Regions from separate parts of the Homo sapiens genome. Here regions 1 and 3 are each reported to be linked to region 2. The links are microRNA targets in miRTarBase. Many come from high-throughput screens and were not tested one by one. Region 2 holds a microRNA gene; each other region holds the end of a gene's coding sequence.
The links. The annotated mature microRNA hsa-miR-922 reads GCAGCAGAGAAUAGGACUACGUC and lies in region 2 at 2,451-2,473, opposite strand. An mRNA with a match to its seed (bases 2 to 7 or 8) in the 3' UTR can be bound and repressed. Matches are read on the target gene's strand: a 7mer-m8 pairs with bases 2 to 8, a 7mer-A1 pairs with bases 2 to 7 and ends in A, and an 8mer does both.

Region 1: miRTarBase lists TRADD as a target of hsa-miR-922. Seed matches in the 3' UTR shown: 7mer-m8 at 6,218-6,224.
Region 3: miRTarBase lists PCGF3 as a target of hsa-miR-922. Seed matches in the 3' UTR shown: 7mer-A1 at 2,263-2,269.

Annotation. Positions count from the first base shown.
Region 1 is chr16:67,148,316-67,155,502 of GRCh38, forward strand. TRADD (TNFRSF1A associated via death domain) reads right to left here. Exons shown (of 5, transcript NM_003789.4): 3 at 7,062-7,187; 4 at 6,781-6,979; 5 at 5,870-6,644. The coding sequence ends at 6,334. PHAF1 (phagophore assembly factor 1) reads left to right here. Exons shown (of 16, transcript NM_025187.5): 16 at 1-229. It overlaps B3GNT9 (UDP-GlcNAc:betaGal beta-1,3-N-acetylglucosaminyltransferase 9), which reads right to left and starts at 2,683. Exons shown (of 2, transcript NM_033309.3): 1 at 2,550-2,683; 2 at 1-2,356. The coding sequence starts at 2,170. The coding sequence ends at 962. RefSeq lists silencers at 2,039-2,468, 2,479-2,638, 7,135-7,187.
Region 2 is chr3:197,672,048-197,679,234 of GRCh38, forward strand. MIR922 (microRNA 922) reads right to left here and starts at 2,529; the gene lies at 2,449-2,529. RUBCN (rubicon autophagy regulator) reads right to left here. Exons shown (of 20, transcript NM_014687.4): 17 at 5,433-5,494; 18 at 4,838-4,991; 19 at 3,375-3,468; 20 at 1-3,149. The coding sequence ends at 2,971.
Region 3 is chr4:765,615-772,798 of GRCh38, forward strand. PCGF3 (polycomb group ring finger 3) reads left to right here. Exons shown (of 11, transcript NM_006315.7): 11 at 418-4,475. The coding sequence ends at 465. All of the region lies in intron 1 of LOC124900163 (chloride intracellular channel protein 6-like), which reads right to left. The region is part of intron 1 of PCGF3-AS1 (PCGF3 antisense RNA 1); the gene reads right to left. Among named protein-coding and RNA genes, the nearest start is that of PCGF3-AS1, 13 kb to the right of the region's middle. RefSeq lists enhancers at 1-280, 370-429, 3,133-4,074.

The sequences.
Region 1 (7,187 bases), not on the chromosome of region 2:
GTGTGGCGCTCCCGACTTTTGTGACTGACTGGTGTCTTCCCATTTGGACTGTGGCCTGGCCAGAGCCCCTTGCATATCCCCACTGTCAGGGGCAGCCAGGACTGTTCCCATCCTCCTGGAATGGGGGAACCTTCCTTATCCCCTGCCCACATCCCCTCTCCAATAAAGCACCTGTGCCCTCAGCAATGGCCTGCCATGTGCTGTTGCTGGGATGTTTGTATTAAGGTAAGTGTGGGTATTGGTTTTTTGAGCAAGGGGGTGGTTGAAGCATATGGGGAAATTAATAGTGGTGGCATCTCAGGGGAAGACATTCCTTGGCTCCTCTGAGGGGATACAGCCTCCAGTGGGAGACTGGCATTGTTGTGTGAGTTCAGGAGGTGAGGAAAGACTAGGTAGGACCGTGCACTCATTTGTCCCTTATGTGTGGCTCCATCCCTGGTGCTCAGCCACACCTGGGCCCAGGAGAGGTTGTGGGAAGCATAATATCTGTTTTCAGATGAGCTATGGCAAAGTGCCTGCCAGGTTCATGAATTCAGGCTGTGGCGGCCGGAGCCCCTCCACCTCCCTGTGGGGCCTGGCCTTGAGAGCCTCTGCATACGTCCGCGTCAGCCTAGGGGGTTCCAAATCCAGCAGAGTGGTAGGATTCCCTAAGTCCCTGCCACCACACCAGAACACACCTCTGTGCTACTAGGAGGACCAGACATATCCACTGCTCTGGGACCTGTTGGACAAGAGATGGTCATCTACCACCCAGCCTTGGCTCGCTCAAAGGGTCACCATTACACGGGTTTCAACTGGTTCCAGCAGGGTGGACCGCCAGGAGCCAAGCTTAACCCCCATCCCCTGGGATCCTGTGGAGACAGGCACCTGGTGATCAGGGAAGAACCACATACACGGCAATAATCTGGGAAACCGGCTCCATTCTGGGTCTGAGTTAGGAGCTTGGGGCTGTAGTGGGGAGCTAGGAGTCCCATTGGAAGGGGCCTGCAGCGACAGGCTGTGGATGCGCACAGGCTGGCCCATGCGGCCCGTGCAGCAGGCGCCACATAAGCCAGATGTCAGCGGCCGAGAGCCCGTGCACTACAACCAGCTCACGGTAAAAGCAGGGGTCGAAGGTGCTCAAATGCGGCGCGGCTGAAGGCTGGGGGATGCCAAAGGTGCGGAAGGCAGGGTGAGGCTCGGGCGTGAGCCGCAGGCGCTGCAGACACATGCCCAGAAAGACGTCGTCGATGGGGAAGAGCTCGACCTGCGCACAGGCGCCAGCCAGGCGGTGCAGCGTGGCCCCGGAAAGCACAAAGCCACCGCCGCCCGCGTAGGCCGGATAGGCGGGCAGGCCGTACACGGCCTCGGGGATGTAGTACTTGCTAGCCCGCGTGCGGATGGGCCGCGCATGCACAATTACGTCACCAGCAAGCAGGTCTTGCGCCGGGTCCCGCGGCGCCAGGAACTCCAGGAGATTTCCCACGTTCACGAACACATCTGCGTCGCCCTTAAAAACGAAGCGCACGTCGGGGCAGAAAGCTGAGGCCCAGGCTAGAAAGTGGATCTCCTTGAGCGTTAGGTTAAAAAAGGTGTCGTCGAAGGCCCAGAGCAGGATGTCCGCATACGCAAGGCTCTCGGCCCGCAGCAGGGCGCGCCAGTGGGTTCGCGCGCCCTCCCCAACTTCGTCGGCCCCGCCCGAGCCTGCGCCCCTGGGCACGCCCAGCAAGAACACGCGGCGCACCAGCGCCCCCTGCACGCGACCCTCCGCGCCCCACGTCTGGCGCACGGCTTGGCGCCGCTCGAAGTCCTCTGCCACCGACTTGACAGCAATAAGCAGGTCCGGGCGGCCACCGGGTGCGCCGTCGCCGCGGCACTTGTGCGGCTGGTTAATGAGCAGTGGAAACCGCCGCTGGTCCTTGGCGCGCAAATAGCGGGCGAAGTCAAAGGGTCCCGTAGGCGTGGGCGGCGCCGGTGTGTCCCCTTCGTAGGCCGGCGGGGCTGCACCCGCGTCGGGTAACTGGAACGCGCGGGGTCCGGGGGTGGGCCTCGGTGCCGCCCTCCCTCGCCCTCGCGGCGCGCTCGCCGTCGGGGCCGCGCCGTCGCGCTGCGCATAGAGTAAGAGGCCCAGGGAGGCGCCAAGGAGCAGCGTGAGCAATGCGTCCCTGCGTAGGCGCAGCCTCCTCCTCATCTCCGCGCGGCCTGCGCCCTCCCTCCCCTGTAAGGGTCGCAGTCGGCAGCAGGGGGCAGCGAGCCCCGCCCTCCCCAGCTGAGGGGGCGGGAGGCCACGCCCCGGGGGGGGCTCCAGCGACCGACGGTTGAGCCCCTTGCGTTGTTCTCCTCCTCCCGGCCGTGTCGCACCGCCGGGACCGGCAGCCTGAAGGGACAAGAAGTTCACCCATGTAGCCAACTCCCCCGCGGCCTCAGCTCCGGCCCAGGACTGCGACCCAGGGCCGGGCAGGGAGACTGGGAGCCTCGGCCCCTCCCCCGCCCGCCTCCCTCGCGCTGAGGCCGAATCCCTTCCACCCTGCCATCCCCTCAATGTCGGGCCCTGGGGTCCCGACACTCACGCTCGGCCCTCGGAAGTGGCGCAGCCCCGGACGCCCTGGCCTCCGGGGCTCAGCGCAGGGTCCGAGGGGCCGCCATGGACCGGGCCCGAGCCAAATGCAGCGTTGGCAGGAAGGGGGACCGGTGCCGTGCCACGTGACCCTCCAGCTGTGCGCGCCCAGACTTCTGGAGCTCAGCTCCGCCCCGGCGCCAGGAGCACTCCGGCCTCAGAGTGGGGACTAATCCCTGAGAGGGAGCCTCCTCACTCTCAGTCCCTCTGGGAAGGGCTGGTCTGGGTGCTCACACCCCAAATTCGCCTTTCTGGGGATTGGGAAGAAGCATCAACTCCCCTGGTTAGCTCCCCCAACTATCCACTCCCCACTCCCGCGTCTCTGGAGTGGGGCGGAGCCTGGGCTGCTAGGAGCCCCTGAGCAGGCCGGTTCCAAATGCGCATGAACCTGGCCACCATCCCGGGCGGGCCTCTCCTCAGCAGCCCTGATTCCATCAGGCAGGGTGCATACGCTGCCCCCGAGACACATGGCTGTCTTCTTACTCCTGGTTCTGCCATGCTCCCCACCCCCAGTAAACACACGCACGGGACAAACAAGGCAGCCCACCCAATCCTCAGGGCAACTCTGCCAGCAGCTCTCATTCATGCCCAGATGGGGACACTGGGGGGCTCTTCGGGGAGTTAAGTGACTTGCCCAGGATCCAAAGGCCAGAAAGCTCTGCCCCCAGGTCTTCTGAAATTCAGGCCAGGATTATTTTATCTGTCCTTGCCCCGCTCATTCATCCACTGGGATACAGAACAGGGGGCCAACCCAGTCTGCTTTAATTTCACAGGCAAGCACTTCAGCCTGTCTCCCCGGGGGCTAATGGACCTGAGCCCAAGCCAGGTGCAGTTCTGAGTCCCCTGGTCCCCAGCATAGCCTACTGCAGGTAGAAATGATCAGGCCTGTGCAGCTGCAGGTCAGACAGGGCTGGCAAGGATGGGGACAGCTTGGGAAGACTCCTGGCGGAGGCCTTGGCTAAAGGATTGCTCTGGGATGCAGGTGGACAGAGGTGCTCTGCAATGGAGAGCTAAGTCCTTGCGCAGCTCAGCTGCCAGCTCTCTCTTTCTTGGTCCCAGCCCATGTGGTGGAGCCTGGAATAGACAGCCTCTACTGGTCTCTTAAGAACCCAGCCCCATCCTCTGTCCAAGGGCTATATCTGCTCCTGACGGCTTCTTCCCACCAATGTTCAATCTTAAAAAGCCACCTCTCTGGCTGGGTGTGGTGGCTTATGCCTGTAACCTCAACACTTTGGGAGGCTGAGGTGAGTGGATCACTTGAGGTCAGGAAGTCAAGACCAGCCTGGCCAACGTGGTGAAACCCCCATCTCTACTAAAAATACAAAAATTAGCTAGACATGGTGGTGGGCACCTGTAATCCCAGCTACTTAGAGGGCTGAGGCAGGAGAATTGCTTGAACCTGGAAGGTGGAGGTTGCAGTGAGCCAAGAACACACCACTGCACTCCATCCTGGGCAACAGAGCGAGACTGTCTCAAAAAAAAAAAAAGGCCAGTCGTGGTGGCTTACTCCTGTAATCCCAACACTTTGGGAGGCCAAGGCAGGTGGATCACTTGAGGCCAGGAGTTTGAGACCAGCCTGGCCAACATGGAGAAACCCTGTCTCTATTAAAAATACAAAAATTAGCCAGGTATGGTGGCACGTGCCTGTAATCCCAGGTACTTGGGAGGCTGAGGCAGGAAAATCACTTGAACCCGGGAGACGAAGGCTGCAATGAGCCGAGATCGTGCCACTGCACTCCAACCTGGCAACAGAGTGAGACTCTCTCCAAAAAAAAAAAAAAAAAAAAAAGCCAAATCTCCACCCTGAGCCTTACTCTTTTTGGTCACAAAGTAATCAGGAGTCCTCTGCTCCAGCTTTCTCCGCGGCCTCACCTTCCATTCCCTCCTGTGATAAAGCTTCGGGCTGCCTCCACCATGACTCAGAAAGACCCCTGACTGGTAAGCTCCTTTTAACTGAGTCCAACAGACACTCCTCGGTCTTGACTACCCGCTCCATTATAGTGGGTGGGTAATCCCCTGGTTTCCAAATCTCCTGGTTTTCCTCCTTCCTCTTTGGCTGTTCCCATTCTGGTTGGTGTCCTTCAGGACATCCCCTGGGGCCACCCCACCCACTCCCCACCTGTCTATTCATCAATCTTTAGATTGAACCCTCATCCTGAACTCAGAACTACAGACCCAACTACCCTCATACTCTCTCCCCGGATGCACTGCAGGAACATCATGCTCAACTTGTCCCAAACAGAGCAAGCATTTCATTTCCCCCCAGGGCCCCATCCCAGCAAGCAGTCCCACCCACCATCCAACTGGCAAAGGCAGAAACTTGGGGCCCTCTCTCAGCCATTCCTCACCCAGTGTCACCAGGCCTGTTACTCTTCCACCCACACAGCTCTTTGGTGGTCATCCCCTTCCCTCCATCTCTGCTGCTACTGCCCCAGCCTGGGGCCACCATTTCCCCCACCCCCATCCTCATCAACCTCCCAGTCTTGGCCAGGTGCGGTGGCACATGCCTGTAATCCCAGCACTTTGGGAGACCAAGGTGGGTGGATCACCTGAGGTCAGGAGTTTGAGACCAGCCTGACCAACATGGAGAAACCCCATCTCTACTAAAAATACAAAATTAGCTGGGCATGGTGGTGGGCGCCTGTAATCCCAGCTACTTGGGAGGCTGAAACAGGAGAATTGCTTGAACCCAGGAGGTGGAGGTTGCAGTGAGCCAAAAACGTGCCATTACACTACAGCCTGGGAAATAAGAGTGAAGCTCCATCTGAAAAAAAATTAAAATTAAAAAAAAAAAAAAAACAACCACCTCCCAGTCTTAACTCCCGAAACTCTTCAAAGGCTTCCTACTGGCCTCATTGAAAAACCCACAAGCCTTCCTCAAGCCCTTGCCTGAGACTGTGCCCCGAACACTGCCCTTCTCTCGATAGCCCACCCCTATGCCTACTCACACTCATCTCCTCCAGGAAGCCTACCCCCTGTCCCCTGCCCAGGTTAGGCCCCTTCCTCCATCCTCCACAACTTCTCTTTTTTTTTCTTTCTTTTTTTTTTTTTTTTTTTGAGACAGGGTCTCACTCTGTCACCCAGGCTGGAGTGCAGTAGCTCAGTGACATCTCACTGCAGCCTCAACCTTCCATGCTCCAGGGATCCTCCCACCTCAGCCTCCTAAGTGGCTGGGACTACCCAGGCTGGTCTCAAACTCCTGAGCTCAAGCAATCCTCCTATCTCTGTCTCCCAAATTGTTGGGATTACAGGTGTAAGCCACTACTACTTGTATTTCTCACATCAAAATCCGTGTTATACTTTATTATCATTGCTTAACATTCGGGGTCCCACGCTGAGTGTGAGCTGGGGGCAGGCAAGATTGATTCCTGTTTTACTTCACTGCAGTATCTGCAGCACCCAGGATGAAGTCCAGGACACCAAAGATCAAGGTGCTTCATGAGTGAAACTGTAAGGGCTGGCTGTAAGCCCCGCTTCTGGGATGGGAGAAGGTGAGGCTGATCTCCAAAGCAGGTCCCCCCCACCCCACACTCTATCAAAGTACCTGAGGCAGAATCCCCAATGATGCACCCCCAGTGGTCTGGCTCCTGGGGAAGGCAATCAACTCTGCCCCAGCAGGTCCAGCAGATAGGCCAAGTGGAGTTTCAGGGTCCCGTGGATGGACAGGGGTTCAGCAATAGCCGCAGAAGGAACCCTAAGGCCATCCAGGTTCTCCAAAAGCTGGCTGCACCCCTGGTCTAGGCCAGGCCGCCATTGGGATCGGTCAGGCCCAGCAAGTCCTCTGCCAGGCTGGTGAGCTCGTTCTCCTCGAGTGCCTCCACCAGGCGCTGCAGCGTGGCGCGGCGGCCCTCGGCCTGCACGAAGCGCCGCAGCAGCTGGAAGGCCTGCTCGTACAGTCCCTCGCGCTCGTACTCGTAGGCCAGCGAGTCCAGCGCCGGGTCCCGCAGCGCCCGGCAGCCTCGCTGCAGTGAGCGCCCCACCTTGCGCCATTTGAGACCCACAGAGCGCGCGAACGTCTGTTGGTCCTTCAGGCTCAGCGGCCGATTCACTGCAGAGGGAGTGGGGAAACGGGGTGAGGGCGGGGACCCCCAGCGCCGGTCCCACCCATCCCCACCCGGCAACGACCCCTGCCCCTCCCCAGACTCCAACCTCCTGGTGACCCCGCCTCTCCACCTGCGCCTCACCTACAGGCTGACCCTGGAACAGAAAAGTCTGGGCAGGTGGCGGCGGCGGCGGCGGCTTCACCTCCGACAGAGAGGGCACCGGGGGCTGCAAGGGGGCCGAAGCGACCTCCCCGTCGCCACCCCGGGCCCCCGAGCCGCACTTCAGATTTCGCAGCGCATCCTCCAGCTCAGCCAGTTCTTCATCCCGGAGCCGGTCGGGCTAGGGGAATGGAACGTGCCGTCACGGGGGACTTAACCGCGGATCCCCGCCCTACCCCATCCTGACCCTAGCCCGGCCGCACCTGCTGGGCTAGGATGCAACTCAAACAGCGCTCCTCGTCCGCCAGCAAAGCGTCCAGCCGCTCGGCGCCGGCGCGCAGCTCCAGTTGCAGCGGCACCGAGTGCTGGGCGAGCGCGGCCGCCAGGCT
Region 2 (7,187 bases):
AAGCACCACAGCAGGTGGAAACGCAGTTCAGAGCACGGGCGGCACACACGGAACATCTCTACTAAGACTCGCACTCCTTTTATGTTAGTTCAACGAAAGCTCTAAATCCTTGGCAGAGAACGTCAAAAACAGCCTCATTTAAGTGGAAAATATTTGTCTTCCACTCTTCTGCTATGTCTTGAATCTTGTCTCCACCTGGTAAGCAAACTATGTTTTTTTTCTTTCCCTTTACTTACAGAAAGAACACTATCACCTGCCTTCATTTAGAAGGAATTCTCTTCAGTGCATTCAAAGCTTCTCCCCGCAACAGCAGGGGATTTTCAGATAGTGGTAACTTGCAAAGTGCTTCCAAAACATCCCATCCTCTACCCACTTCCCCCCTCTTGAATAAATAACTGGGTATTTGGAAGGTGAGGACGGCATCGTGTCAGAGTCACTAAAACAGACGCACGATCTAAAGGGATGGGGTGCGGTTGAGGGAGCTAGGGAAAAATAAGTGACAAGTGAGGAGCCTATGAGACTGTTGAGTTCGGCTTCAGAAGCTGTCAGCATTGTCATCCTTTGATCCTATGCTGATGTGAAACAGGCAGGACAAGACGGCACATCTGTCCTCCAGCGCAGTGACCTGGAGAAAGAGCTGGATGTGTCACCTTTTTGTTTTTTGAGACGGAGTCTCACTCTGTCACCCAGGCTGGAGTGCGGTGGCGCAATCTCGGCTCACTGCAACCTCTGCCTCCCAGGTTCAAGCGATTCTCCTGCCTCAGCCTCCCAAGTAGCTGGGATTACAGGCGTGTGCCACCACGCCCAGCTAATTTTTGTATTTTTGGAAGAGACAGGGTTTCACCACATTGGCCAGGCTGGTCTCAAACTCCTGACCTCATGATCCGCCCGCACTGGCCTCCCAAAGTGCTGGGATTACAGGTGTGAGCCACTGTGCCTGGCCTGGATGTGTAATTTAAACCAAAACTGGAAGTAGAGCTCATTTTTATAAACTCCTGGGTCTGAATCTGGGACCTAACCCCTAGTTAAACTTGAGTTCTGTGGGGTCATTCTTAAAGCTCCCTGAAGGACCTGGGCACTTCTAGTCACAGCCCTTCAGAACTTCTGGGACTTGGCTTTTTGAGTCTCACTATGAACAGAAGGGAGAACAGCCTCAGGGTCTTCTAGCCCTACATGGCTTTCAGATCCCAACTTTGAGGCAGAGGAATCAAGGGCAGGGGCCAGTTCCCACATGTTCCCTCTCACGCTGGTGGAGCCTCAGCCCTGGCCATCACCTTAATGCCTCTCCCACTTCCCTGGGAGACTCCTTCTTACCGCCAGCTCAAGCTCTCATCAGCTTCCACCAACCACAGGCAACTTTCCGCTCAGCTTCCAGGGCAGCACCCACGCCCATTTCTTTCCTACCAGCAAGCAACTATGAGAAGACATGCCCATGGGCAGAATTCAATCCCAGAACAAAAATGATGCAGGCTTTAGTTCACAGAGCTGCCAGCTCTTGGAGAAGCCACTCTGACCAGTGTTTTCACAGAGGTTAGAAGCTGCATCAACTTAAGGAACATCACAAACACACACATGGCCCCACCCAAGGACTTCACTGTCAACACACACATTAACGGGGGGGAAGGGGGAGGCAGCACACCAAAATCAGCATTATCAAAAGGACTTCACCATCAACACACATTAACGGGGGGAGGGGGGCAGCACACTAAAATCAGCATTATCAAATGAACAGATAAACATTACCAGGCTACACAGAGTTAAGTGCATAATTGGCATAAAGGCTCTTGTTATCCCAAGAACACAGGGACATTCACACTCACATCCACAAACCGTCAAGTTCTGTAACAGCACTAATAGCAGGAAGCTTTTCTCCAACTTTGACCAAAGAAGCTAAGGCAAGAGAGACTCGGCCACCAGGGAAGGACCCAGCTCTGCTGCAGGAAGGGGAGAGAACGGAGTCGGGTTGTACTTTTACTCAGAAGCACAACGACCATCTAACAGAGGACAGAGTCATCAGGGACACGCTAAGAAGATGGTGGGTGAGGTTCCTGTCCTCACCTTAGGATGGCATCAGGGACCTGCCTGAGCTTCAAAGATCACACCTGCACCAAAAAGCCAGGTTAACTAAGAGACCTTAACACCAAGAGGGGGCCGACCGCTCCTCTGAGTAAGCGCTCCTTCAGCGACAGAGCTGGCGCCTCACGTATGCTTGCGGCGTAAGGCTACAGGTGAGCCTGGCCTGAGCATCAGTTCTGTTCTTTGCTTCAAGATCACCAAGGTAGATGAAGAAAGTCAGCTTGTGGCATCCTCTATGCTTCAAATATTTCAAACAGGAACTCCCGGCAACATAGGGACATTCACAGCTGCCTCTGAGGTCTCTGAGGAGTCTAGGATAGTCAGGATTGTTCTGTGGCCCCCAAAATACCCAAATAAGTGGACGAAATGCCCATGACGTAGTCCTATTCTCTGCTGCTTCTCCTCGGGGCACAGTCTGACCCCAGTCCAGGACAGGGAGAGGGAAAACGCCATCCCCGTTTCAGCAGCAGGAGAGGTGGTTGAGAAAGGCCTGGCTCAGAAGCTCCAGAACTGAAACAAAGGAAAATTGGAAATGATACCTGACATGCAGGTGAAACCTAGAGGAGAAGGCCACAGACGCTGGAAGAACTTGGTCTTGCTGTCTCTTCCACTGACAGAGGCACTAGAAGCTTCACTGAAGGACCCGCATGTCAGTTCTGATGGAAACACCTGGTGTTTACAAATTATCTGTCACCACAGACTCTGGACCCATCAACCTGCCGACGGCTGACTGCACACAGACGTCAGACAAGTCAGTAAAAAAAAAAAAAAAGATGATGATAATTAAAAAAAAAAAAAAAAAAAGAAGCCCCAGGTGGGGCGAGTCCTTCAAAGAGTGGCTCAGTTCTGCAACAGGTGTGACCCGGCCCGGAGGGAGGGCTGCACGTGCTTTCTTCAGGTGGCCTCCAGGACGGCGGCTTCCAGGGCCAGCGCTTCCGCGGGCTCCTCCTCGTAGTCTGACAGGTAAGACTCCAGGCTCTGCCTGGCCAGTGCCTCCCGCCGGGCCTGCAGCCGCTCGCAGCGCGGACAGCTTCCAGACTTGAAGCAGGCTTTATGGTAACACGCTTTACACTCTACTCAGGTTGGGAAGGTGGGGGAGAGAAGAAAACAATTTGTATTATCTCCAGCTAGAGGTCAGTTGCTGCCACAGCCCCTTCTCGCCACCAAGGCGTGGTGTCCCCTGGGGAGGCCCCGCGAGGTGCTGAGTGGCACCGAACTCTTGCTAACAGGGGTGGCTCTGGGGAATCAAGGAGCCCTGTGTTCAGGCTCACTTGCCCGATGCCTGCACCTGCCCTCACCTTCACAGGTCCGGCACTTATGGAGCTCAAAGGGAAAGATGATGTCATCCTCATTCTGACAGAACTCACAGATGAAGCCTTTGGCTTGGCAGAGCTGGGGAGGAAAAACACAGATGGCAAAATGAGGAGCGGCACATCAGGAACTGGCACGGGAGGGTGAACACCGAGGAGGGGAGTGGTCTACAGGGTTCTGCTGCCCACAGGGAGGAGGCCTGGGCTGGACTCAGAAGCATGAAAGCTAAACTAGGACCAGGGCCGGGCAGCGTTAGACAAAGCTTTAGGCAGAAGATCAGACAGGCACCAGCCGGAGAAGCTCCGACCCCCAGCGCGGCTCTCCATGAAGAGAGGAGAAGGAGGAAATGGCACCACAAAGGGCTTCCTAAGCCGACAGTCCCATCTGGGTCATGATTTTATTTCAGAATAGGAACCACAAGCAATTAAGATAAAATGTGGAGACGAGGCTGTTCCTCAAACACAGCTCCAAGCCTGGAGTCAGGTTGTAGTGAAGGATTTCCAGTTCCTCCCAGACACACAGGGTTTCCTACCTGTGCCCAGCTCGAATTATGGGACGGTCACAGGAACATAAACTGGGCATAGGCTAAGACAGGAAGTTCTAAAAGTGTAATTTCTGCATTTTCAACATGTTGAGTAGATGACGACAATAACGACGTGCGTTTGAGGAATACATAAAGTATACAAAACGCTGTCATACAAATTACCCCATCAACCCTCAAAAATACTGAGAAGAAAGTAAATTATTCTCTTCATCTTAGAGCCAAGAAAATCGAGGCCTCAGAGGGGACAAAGTATTTATTTTGGTCATAATGACTGAGAACAACAAATGACGGCCGAGGGTAGACTCCCTCTCGATTCCAATCCAGAGCTCTCCTCTCACATCATGACAACTGCCTTTTTTTTTTCCACTCTTGTCGCTCAGGCTGGAGTGCAGTGGCATGATCTCGGCTCACTGCAACCTCCGCCTCCTGGATTCAAGCAATTCTCCTGCCTCAGCCTCCCGAGTAGCTGGGATTACAGGCACCCGCCATCATGCCCGGCTAATTTCTGTATTTTAGTAGAGATGGGGTTTCATCATGTTCGTCAGGCTGGTCTTGAACTCCTGACCTCAGGTGACCCGCCCACCTCGGCCTCCCAAATTGCTGGGATGAGAGGCCTAAGCCACCGTGCCTGGCCAACACTTCTTGAGTGAAAGTCTACTCGGTCTTGCCCGGAGCTACCCAGGACCACAGCCAGCACCAGCTCCTCCCCTCACTCGAGGTTCTTTAGATCAGGATGATTTGGCTGCTCTCCAGGCTAAGGAACAGCAGCCCTTTCCAGTTCCTCTCCCAGTGCTGACTGGCCATTTCAACTTCCTCAAGCTAAGTGGCAAGAACCCCAGGTCCACCCCCCTCCCTGTATCCCTAAAAGCAAGGGCTCAGCTGCATGCTACAGTGAGACTTTCTCACCATGCATCTCTCCACATGGGTAGCCCCTGCCCTGGTGAGCTCAGCAAGCCGGGGCCCCAGCTCCCCCTTCCTGGTCGCAGTCAGGTCATTCAGTGAGTACAGGTGGAGGTCCTCTGTCAGGTGGCCTGGGACTGTGTCAAAGGAATCCAGAAGCCTACAGGGAGTGACAGGAGGCAGGTGAGGGAATGAACAGTGCATGTGCCACATCGTAGTAGAAGGATCCCTATCCAGAAACTGCAGAAAGTAATGAGGGTGGGCACCCATCAGCCAGCCCAAGGTTCCAGGCCGCCGCAGCCGTTCCACGCTATTAGGTGTCTGGATGGCAGGAGTGACTGATTTATAGGCTCCTGCAGAGTGGCCCATGTGAGACCCAGCCTGGGAAGAGAGGTGGCCTGTCCTGGATGGAATGACCACAGATCCCCTTCCAGAGAGAAGGACACAGATACAGTTACTGCTGTGGCCTCCTGTTTACCACTTTACAGTTCTGCAAAATCTCTCTACTCTCCTTCGTTACATAACAAGAGCCAAGCGCGGGGATGTGTCCCTTTCGGAGACAGCAACGTGGCCAGAGGGCTCTAGCTCCAAAAGGACTTACTCCTTGGCCAGTCGGCAAGTCTTGAACATGTTCTTCATGTGACACAGCTGGACCCGCAGCAGCTGAAAAGAAAGAGAGGGGGGCAGGAGTGGGAGGGAGATGTGAGAAGAGGAATCCAGTGTGGGAAGCCCAGGGCCTTTAAACCCTGGGGTTCTAGAAGCCTTGCATGCTGCACCCAGAGCAGACTGTCCTACGCTCTGACAACTGGCTCCAGACTGTCCTATGCTCTGACTCGACACCTGGCTTCAGATTGTCCCACACTCTGACTGACAACTGGCTTCAGACTGTCCTACGCTCTAACTCGACACCTGGCTTCAGACTGTCCCACACTCTGACTGACAGCTGGCTTCAGACTGTCCCACGCTCTAACTCGACAACTGGTTCCAGACTGTCCTATGCTCTAACTCGACACCTGGCTTCAGACTGTCCCACACTCTGACTGACAACTGGCTTCAGACTGTCCTACGCTCTAACTCGACACCTGGCTTCAGACTGTCCCACACTCTGACTGACAGCTGGCTTCAGACTGTCCCACGCTCTAACTCGACAACTGGTTCCAGACTGTCCTATGCTCTAACTCGACACCTGGCTTCTGACTGTCCCACACTCTGACTGACAACTGGCTTCAGACTGTCCTACGCTCTAACTCGACACCTGGCTTCAGACTGTCCCACACTCTGACAGCTGGCTTCAGACTGTCCCACGCTCTAACTCGACAACTGGCTTCAGACTGTTGTATGCTCTAACTCGATACCTGGCTTCAGACTGTCCCACACTCTGACTGACAACTGGCTCCAGACTGTCCTATGCTCTGACAACTGGCTTCAGACTGTCCTATGCTCTAACTCGACAACTGGCTTCAGACTGTCCTATGCTCTAACAACTGGCTTCAGACTGTCCTACACTCTGACAACTGGCTTCAGACTGTCCTACGCTCTAACTCGTCAACTGGCTTCAGACTGTCCTATGCTCTAACTGACAACTGGCTTCAGACTGTCCTACGCTCTAACTGACAACTGGCTCCAGACTGTCCTACGCTCTAACAACTGGCTTCAGACTGTCCTACGCTCTGACTGACAACTGGCTTCAGACTGTCCTACACTCTGACAACTGGCTCCAGACTGTCCTACGCTCTGACAACTGGCTCCAGACTGTCCTACGCTCTAACTGACAACTGGCTTCAGATTGTCCTACGCTCTGACAACTGGCTCCAGACTGTCGTATGCTCTAACTGACAACTGGCTTCAGACTGTCCTACGCTCTAACTGACAACTGGCTCCAGACTGTCCTACGCTCTAACAACTGGCTTCAGACTGTCCTACGCTCTGACAACTGGCTCCAGACTGTCGTACGCTCTAACTGACAACTGGCTTCAGACTGTCCTACGCTCTAACTGACAACTGGCTCCAGACTGTCCTACGCTCTAACAACTGGCTTCAGACTGTCCTACGCTCTGACAACTGGCTCCAGACTGTCGTATGCTCTAACTGACAACTGGCTTCAGACTGTCCTACGCTCTAACTCGTCAACTGGCTTCAGACTGTCCTACGCTCTGACAACTGGCTCCAGACTGTCCTACGCTCTGACAACTGGCTTCAGACTGTCCTGTGCTCTAACTGACAACTGGCTTCAGACTGTCCTATGCTCTGACAACTGGCTTCAGACTGTCCTATGCTCTAACTCGACAAGTGGCTTCAGACTGTCCTACGCTCTGACAACTGGCTTCAGACTGTCCTACGCTCTAACTCGACAAGT
Region 3 (7,184 bases), not on the chromosome of region 2:
TTGGGCCCCTCTGAAGCAGGAAACCAATGGTGGAACTCTCCCACCTCAGCTGGTGTTGCTGCCTGGGGAGAGGGGGAGGAGCCAAGGCTGGCCTGGGGCTGGGCCAGAGGGTTTGAGGGAGAAGGGGGCAGGGGAGTGGCAGCCAGGGCCACATCAGGTACAGGTGGCCACCACGGTGTGCACAGTGGTCACTGGGTCACCTGGGGCCAGGGGAGAGGGCACATGTCTTCCTAGCCCGTCTTCCCCCAGCAACTTCTGGGGGACCCTTCTGTTGCTCAGAACAGAAGGGTCTCTGTGCAGCCCTGCATGTGGACTGTGCCTCACGGGACGTGATTCCTCAGCACCCTTCCCGATGAAGTAGGTCCTTCTCGCCTCCACCCCTGCTAAGCAGGCACTGTGCGTTCTTGTGTCTTCCAGAAGGCGCCGCTCCTGCTGCACTACAGACCCAAGATGGACTTGCTGTGAATGGTGCCACACAGCGCCCACAGACTGGGCCCTCGCACCCTTGGGTGCTCCCGGCCGCCGCGCTTAAGAACATTGCCTCTGGGTGTCATGTGGACCAGACTTCTGAATAGAGAATATTTATAACTTTTGTATGAGAGAGAATTCACACTCAACAAGACACTACCAGCACCACGTTTACAGAGGATGAAAACACTTCACAGTCTCCCAGAGCCGATCGTCCTCTCCCCCGCCCCACCCCGTGCTTCAGCCTTGCAGGGAGAGTGATGCTCCAGGCAACACGGTTCTGAGTCACCTTCTGACACGAGCTCCCTCTGCTTGCTTTCCAGGTCTTGAAAATCTGAATTCACTTCAGTTTAGTTTATGAATTTTAGGTTTCATGATAAGCCTCAAGTGTAGTTGGACTTTTATTGAATCCTTCCTAAGTTATTGAAAAAATGTCTTTTCATGGTGAATGACAATATTTATGTTGCCTTTAGCTTCTTGAAGATTTAGAAGTTATATAAAAAATTAATTTAAAAGCAAACCAAAAGAGGTTTCCATTAACATTATGATTTAACCATTGTATTTAATTTCCCACCTTATGAAACACAACAGCAGCTCCCTGACTGGTTCGCCTTTCATTGTGTGAGGTCGGCACTTGGACTCACTCAGAACTGTCGCTCACCTGTGGCTGACACACCCAGCCCTGGAAACGGGGCCCCAGACGCCACGTCGGGATTTCTGACATGCTCAGCAGGTAGACCAGAGGCCGTGTGACCAGCTCAGTGCTGGTTTACGGAACAACTCTTACTTTTAAAAATTACTTGTTCCCCCAAATTGTTGAGTGCCGCCGTTTGGTTTCCTATGTTTTCTTTCCCTGTTTTGATTTTGCTGAAGGGAGAGGTGGTGGTGGTTAGGATCAGAGCTCTCCTGGCATCCGTGGGGAGGATTTGCTGGTGGTGGCTTCGGGCTCATGCCCAGACACACTCACTGCCCCGTCTGTCCAAGGCCTCCCCTTCCCCTTTGCTGGTGGGAGGAGCTCGTGTGCTCCTTGGCCGCTTACTGGAAGGGCGTTTTTCAGAGCTGCAGGGACAGGGTGAGCAGCTGAAGGGCTAGGAGGGAAGCCGGCCCCCGCTCTGCAGAAGCTGCATTTCAGCTGAATCTGTGTTTCAGCCTCAGTTGGTTGCACCGTTAGCCCCTCTCCTCCCGGATGGTCATGTTTTTGTCACATTAGAGAATAAACAGCCACACACACATTTTTTTTTTTCCTTTAAAACAGTAACTTGGAAATATGAAAAGGCCAGAAGGAGGAGCAAGGGCTGTTTTCTGGAGTGGTTGAGGTGTTGTCCTGCAGTTGTCATTGTCTTCTCCACCGGGCTGTTCCCATTTATTTCCTGTGGAACTGAATCCCTCCTCCCTCCACTCCTTGGGAGCCCAGGTGGTCCTTGGCCACCATTCAGGCTTTCCAAGAAGCCAACCACCTTGGAGATTTTTTTTCTTGAATTTCGCTGTTTTCTTCTGCTTCCTTTAGATAAAAAGCAGCTCAAGAGACCTTATCTTAGGGATGAGAAAAACATGCATATTAATTCCATCTGAGTGATTGTCAGTGTAAGGCCTTTTAAAACAAAAGCAAGTTCTTTGTTAGGAATTGGTCAAAATTCATCTCTTTCTTTAAGCCCATCAACTCCCAGGACGGTTTGAGTTACTCAGTTACCTAAGCTTGCTATTCATCCAAATCATTTTCTAGAGTCACTGTATAAGGGTCTATGAGTAGCTGTGTATGAATAAATATTACCTGTCTACCTCAAAATACACATACTGCTGAAGCATTCTGTACAACCGTGTGTTATCACAGTGCAGTTTTAAGTGTAACGTTAGAACTTAGGCATTTTCCTGTGTGGCGGAATAAGAAAGGATTAAACAGTTACAAGCCTCCAAATTCAAATAAAATTAAATCACAGTTCAGATGAAACTGAATATCATTGTAATAATCTCATAATATATATTTGTAACTTTGTAGCTATCTTTGAAATCACTTGACTTTGCAATGGTGCTAAGCTGATAGATTTAAATACACAGACGGGCGAGTGGCGCCCGTGTCGATGTCTTCAGCCAGTGGTGACCCTGCTTTTGTAACCGCGTTAACCTGACAAAACCTCAGCAGCAGAAGTCCCTATTTTTCTAGGAGTTCATCGTGCAGACAGTCTTCACTACAGGACTCGGCCCTGGGGCCTCTGCCTCTCGTCTGACCTTGCAGCCTTAGTCGTTGGAGGCTGGAGCGCAATGGCCCTGCCGTCTGTGGAGCCTCTGGGCGGCCTTCTTTCCTTTCTGTCAACCTCTCATTTCACAGAAAAAGGCTGAATTTCATTTTTTCCAGCATGAAAGCCAGGATCGGTTAGTGGTTGGATTCTATTGGTTTTTTTTTTTTAAACAGATGGAGTTACTGTGAAGAAGTTTTCACAACTATTTATGCTGGTAAAACAAATGCTGTTAAATCACCTTATGCGTCGTTTTCAACAGCAGTGGGGCTAATTACCCGGAATACGGTCTCACCGATGCAGTTTTCATGGACATAGAAAATTCAAATAGAATATATAATATTGAATTTAAGATTTGGGGGGTTAAAAAAGAAAACTTAACTTTATAAAATTATTTATTCTATTTTAAGCCTTCTATCATATTTTCCCATCCAATTGTTTGGTTTCAGTGGTCCAGCTTTATTTACAGGCATATAAAATGAAATTGTGAGATGTTTTGCAAGCTTCTTTTTACTTTGAGTAGCTTTTAATTTGTATGTTTTTATGTGGATGAAGAGCATTTTTTATGCTTTTGTGCAATAGGTTCCAATATGCATTTATTAGACATCTGTTTAAATGGTAATGTAGCATTTATTTTGCTAAATTGAAAGGGAACATAGATGGAATTCCAAAATATGTACATTCAGCTGTTTGGTTTTTCGTTTTTCATTGTTATTATTGTGAGAATGCTGTTATTGGGGTTGTGTGTGAGTGCCCGTCAGCCAGTGATGCCTCGGGCCACGCTGTGGGGCCACCTCAGTCCTGCCTGGGTCCTGGTGCCTTGGACCCCACGTGCTTGTGGCCAGGCTGCCCCTGGGCAGGGCCATGTGGCCTCAGACCACAAGAGCGGAGCTGCCCTGGCCCAAGCACTGCAGCTGCCTGCACCCCCGGGCTTCGCAGCCTTGCTTGTTTTCTCTGAACAGCAACAGAACAGTGTTCACAGCGATTCAAAGGGTGGCATTGGGTTGGACGTTCTGGGTACAAGCCAACCTAGTCCCACGTTGTACGTGAATGTTTAATGTGCTCTCAAAACATGGAAAATAAGTTTAGTGCACATAGCTAAATCACAAAACATCCAATTTCTCTGTTTCCTCAGGAAGTCATTACTGCGCCACCACATCACATGACCTTAACATGATCAATGTATTTCTCTGCCTTGACATTTAAATACATAAATTGAGATAAGTAGATTAGAAAATCATTCAAATGATACCATAATTTGTACGGGACAGGGTGCGGGCAATGGCCACGTGGCCAAGGCCCTGCAGGAACGCGCCGAGGTCTCCCTCACCCTCCAGGTGTCCTTCGCACCCAACAGTGCGTCTGAGGAACGAGCTGCAGTTTGAGCGTTCCCCTGAGATGTGCGTAGCCTCCGTGTAAATGTCCACTCCCATGGCTTAATTGCCTATCAGACGCATTTTCCCAGACGAAAGCAATGTTGGGTTGGGGAAGACAGTGCAGCCACCCAGCCTTTACCAGCAGCGTACGGCAGACGAAGGCAGTCGAGGTGTGGAGGTGATCACGAAGATACATGTGTTTGACTGTTTAATTTGAAAGTTTACATTTTTTATGCTTTGTGTTGGTGTGTAATTTTTGTACTCTTGGTGGCTAGTTTTTGTCAAATCTTTTTTGGAATATTGCTTAAATGTTTTGATTTTATGATAGTGAAGCTTGTATTCAGTGTTTTGCCAATTAATATTATATGCTTGTAATAAAAGCAAAAGAAAAGCTTAAGTGAAAGTGTTTCTGGCTGGAAATGTATTACATAAATCATTTGTATGAGCATGAGAGATGACTTGCTCATGGGATGAGCAATGCTGTGGGTATTGGATGGACCACTCAGGCAGCCTGGCCGCACACACACACATGCATGCTACATATGTGTACGCTCAGACCACATGCCTGCACATATGTCCACACACCAGCCCACGGCTCCCTTCCTCACCCCAGCCCTCCCCACTCCCAGGTTAACCAATGTCTCGATTTGCTTCAGGCGGCATTTGTAAACTGTCACCCTGCTTGCAAACCCTCATTTAAATTGGTCCAGCATTTGCTACCAGAGTTTAGGCCACAAACTTTGTAAAGCTCAGTTTGTCTCCTTGCAGAAAGAGGTTGCTGCAGTTTGGAGCTGGTTATGCCAAGGAAAATACGGCTAAAAAAGAACTTACTGATTCCCATAGGTGTGTCAACTGACAAATGAATGTTCCATCTCCCTACGACAATTTGCTGCCCCTCCCCAAAAAAAGCACTATGGCCAAAATTTCAGTTTTTAAAGGTTAAGTAAAATACAACAATTCTGAAACTCTTAAGAGAACCAGAATTGGAAGGAAAGGAGAATGGCCAAAATTATATTCTCACAACCTAAAGCAGTAAACTTTAAAAATAGGTTCAGTCTTAGACTTGACTTAATTGACTTAGGCTGGGCATAGTGGCTCACACCTGTAATTCCAGCACCGTAGGAGGCCAAGGCAGGCTGATCATCTGAAGTCGGGAGTTCGAGACCAGCCTGGCTAACATGGTGAAATCCCGTCTCTACTAAAAAATATAAAAATTAGCCGGGTGTGGTGGCAGGGGCCTGTAGTCCCAGCTACTCAGGAGGCTGAAGCAGGCGAATCGCTGGAACACAAGAGGCAGAGGTTGCAGTGAGCCGAGATCACGCCACTGTACTCCAGCCTGTGCTACAGAGCAAGACTCCATCTCAATTTAAAAAAAAAAAAAAAAAAAAAAAAAAAAGGACTTGGCGGGGTGCAGTGGTTCATGCCTGTAATCCCAGCACTTTGGAAGCTGAGGCGGGTGGATCACAAGGTCAAGAGATCGAGACCATCCTGGCCAGCATGGTGAAACCCCATGTCTACTAAAAATACGAAAATTAGCCAGGCCTGATGGCACGCACCTGTAGTCCCAGCTACTCAGGAGACTGAGGCAGGAGAATCACTTGAACCCGGGAGGCAGAGGTTGCAGTGAGCCGAGATCGCACCACTGCACTCCAGCCTGGGCGACAGAGCGAGACTCCATCTCAAAAAAAAAAAAAAAAAAAAAAAAAGACTTCACTGACTCAAAGTGTATTTTACTTATTTTCGGCCAGTCCATCTGTCCATCTTAGAAATGTCAAGATACTGGCTGAAACCACAAGCAGACACTGATGTCAGCGTCAACTGCAGGGAGTAGGGGAAACACAAGTCCTCAAAATTGGGTCCACCCACTTTGGGGACTGGGCCATGAAGCCTGGTGATAGCAGCCACGGGAGCCTGAGGTCTGAGAGCTTCAAGCTCCATCTGAGCACAGTGGGTGGGGTCCCTGCACCAGGACCCCAGAAACAAGCTCTGGAAGTTGGTTCCTGTGGGTTCTGCAGCAGCTCAGGGCTGCAGGGACCTTGACGCTCTCACAGCAGAGCCAAGCCTCGGCCTCTCTGCTCGCTGGTGGTTTTGTTTCTCCCATGCAGTTCTGTGTGCATAAGACAAAAATCCTGTGTTAGTCATGTGTGTTAGTACACCTGTGACCGGGTGAAAGCCAAACAGTGTCCCCTGAAAGGCAGCAGAGGAACAGAAAAACAAGGGGGTTTGCTGTGATGAGACCCGCACCGTCTGCGTTCAGGAAGCCAGGGCCTTCTGCTGCTAGAGGCCCCTGAGGCCCACCAAATCCTCCCAAAGTAGATGTCCATATGGCTTCTAGTTTTTAAGGATAAAACTCCCTTGAGATGCACTGAGTCCCTCCTGAGGGGCTGTGGAGGGCTGAGCCTGCATTGGTTGGGAGGCCTGTGTCCTGACGGTGCTCTGCAGTAGCTACACTGAACGTCCCCTTTAATAGAAAGAATTATCTGTCTTCCGCTTACACAGAAATGCAACTGTGCTTACATAAATCAGCACAGAGTCCTAAATCCATAAATAAGCAAAGAGTCCTTTCTCTTACCCACATTACTCCTCAGTCAAGGAAAGTACACAAAGCACATTTGTTTCATTTTTTTTGGTGGCTTATGCTCCAATTGTGAGGAAGGAGATGCTCCCCTGGGCCCACCCCGCCCACCCCAGAGTGTCTGCCCACGCCAATTCCTGGGGAAGGTGTGGCCTGCTCAAGGGATAAGACTCCTGTCGACGTTGGACAAACAACCATTTGACCACTACATTTATTCCTATGTTTTTTCTTTGTGTGTGTGTGTGTGTGTGTGTGTGTGTGTGTAGACAGAGTCTCACTGTGTCACCCAGACTGGAGGGCAGTGGTGTGATCTCGGCTCACTGCAACCTCTGCCTCCTGGGTTCAAGCGATTCTCCTGCCTCAGCCTCCCAAGTAACTGGATTACAGGCACCTGCCACCACGCCAGGCTAATTTTTGTTTTTAGTAGAGACGGGGTTTCACCACGTTGGCTGGGCTGGTTTCTAACTCCCAACCTCTGGTGATCCGCCCGCCTCGGCCTCCCAAAGTGCTGGGATTACAGGCGTGAGCCAG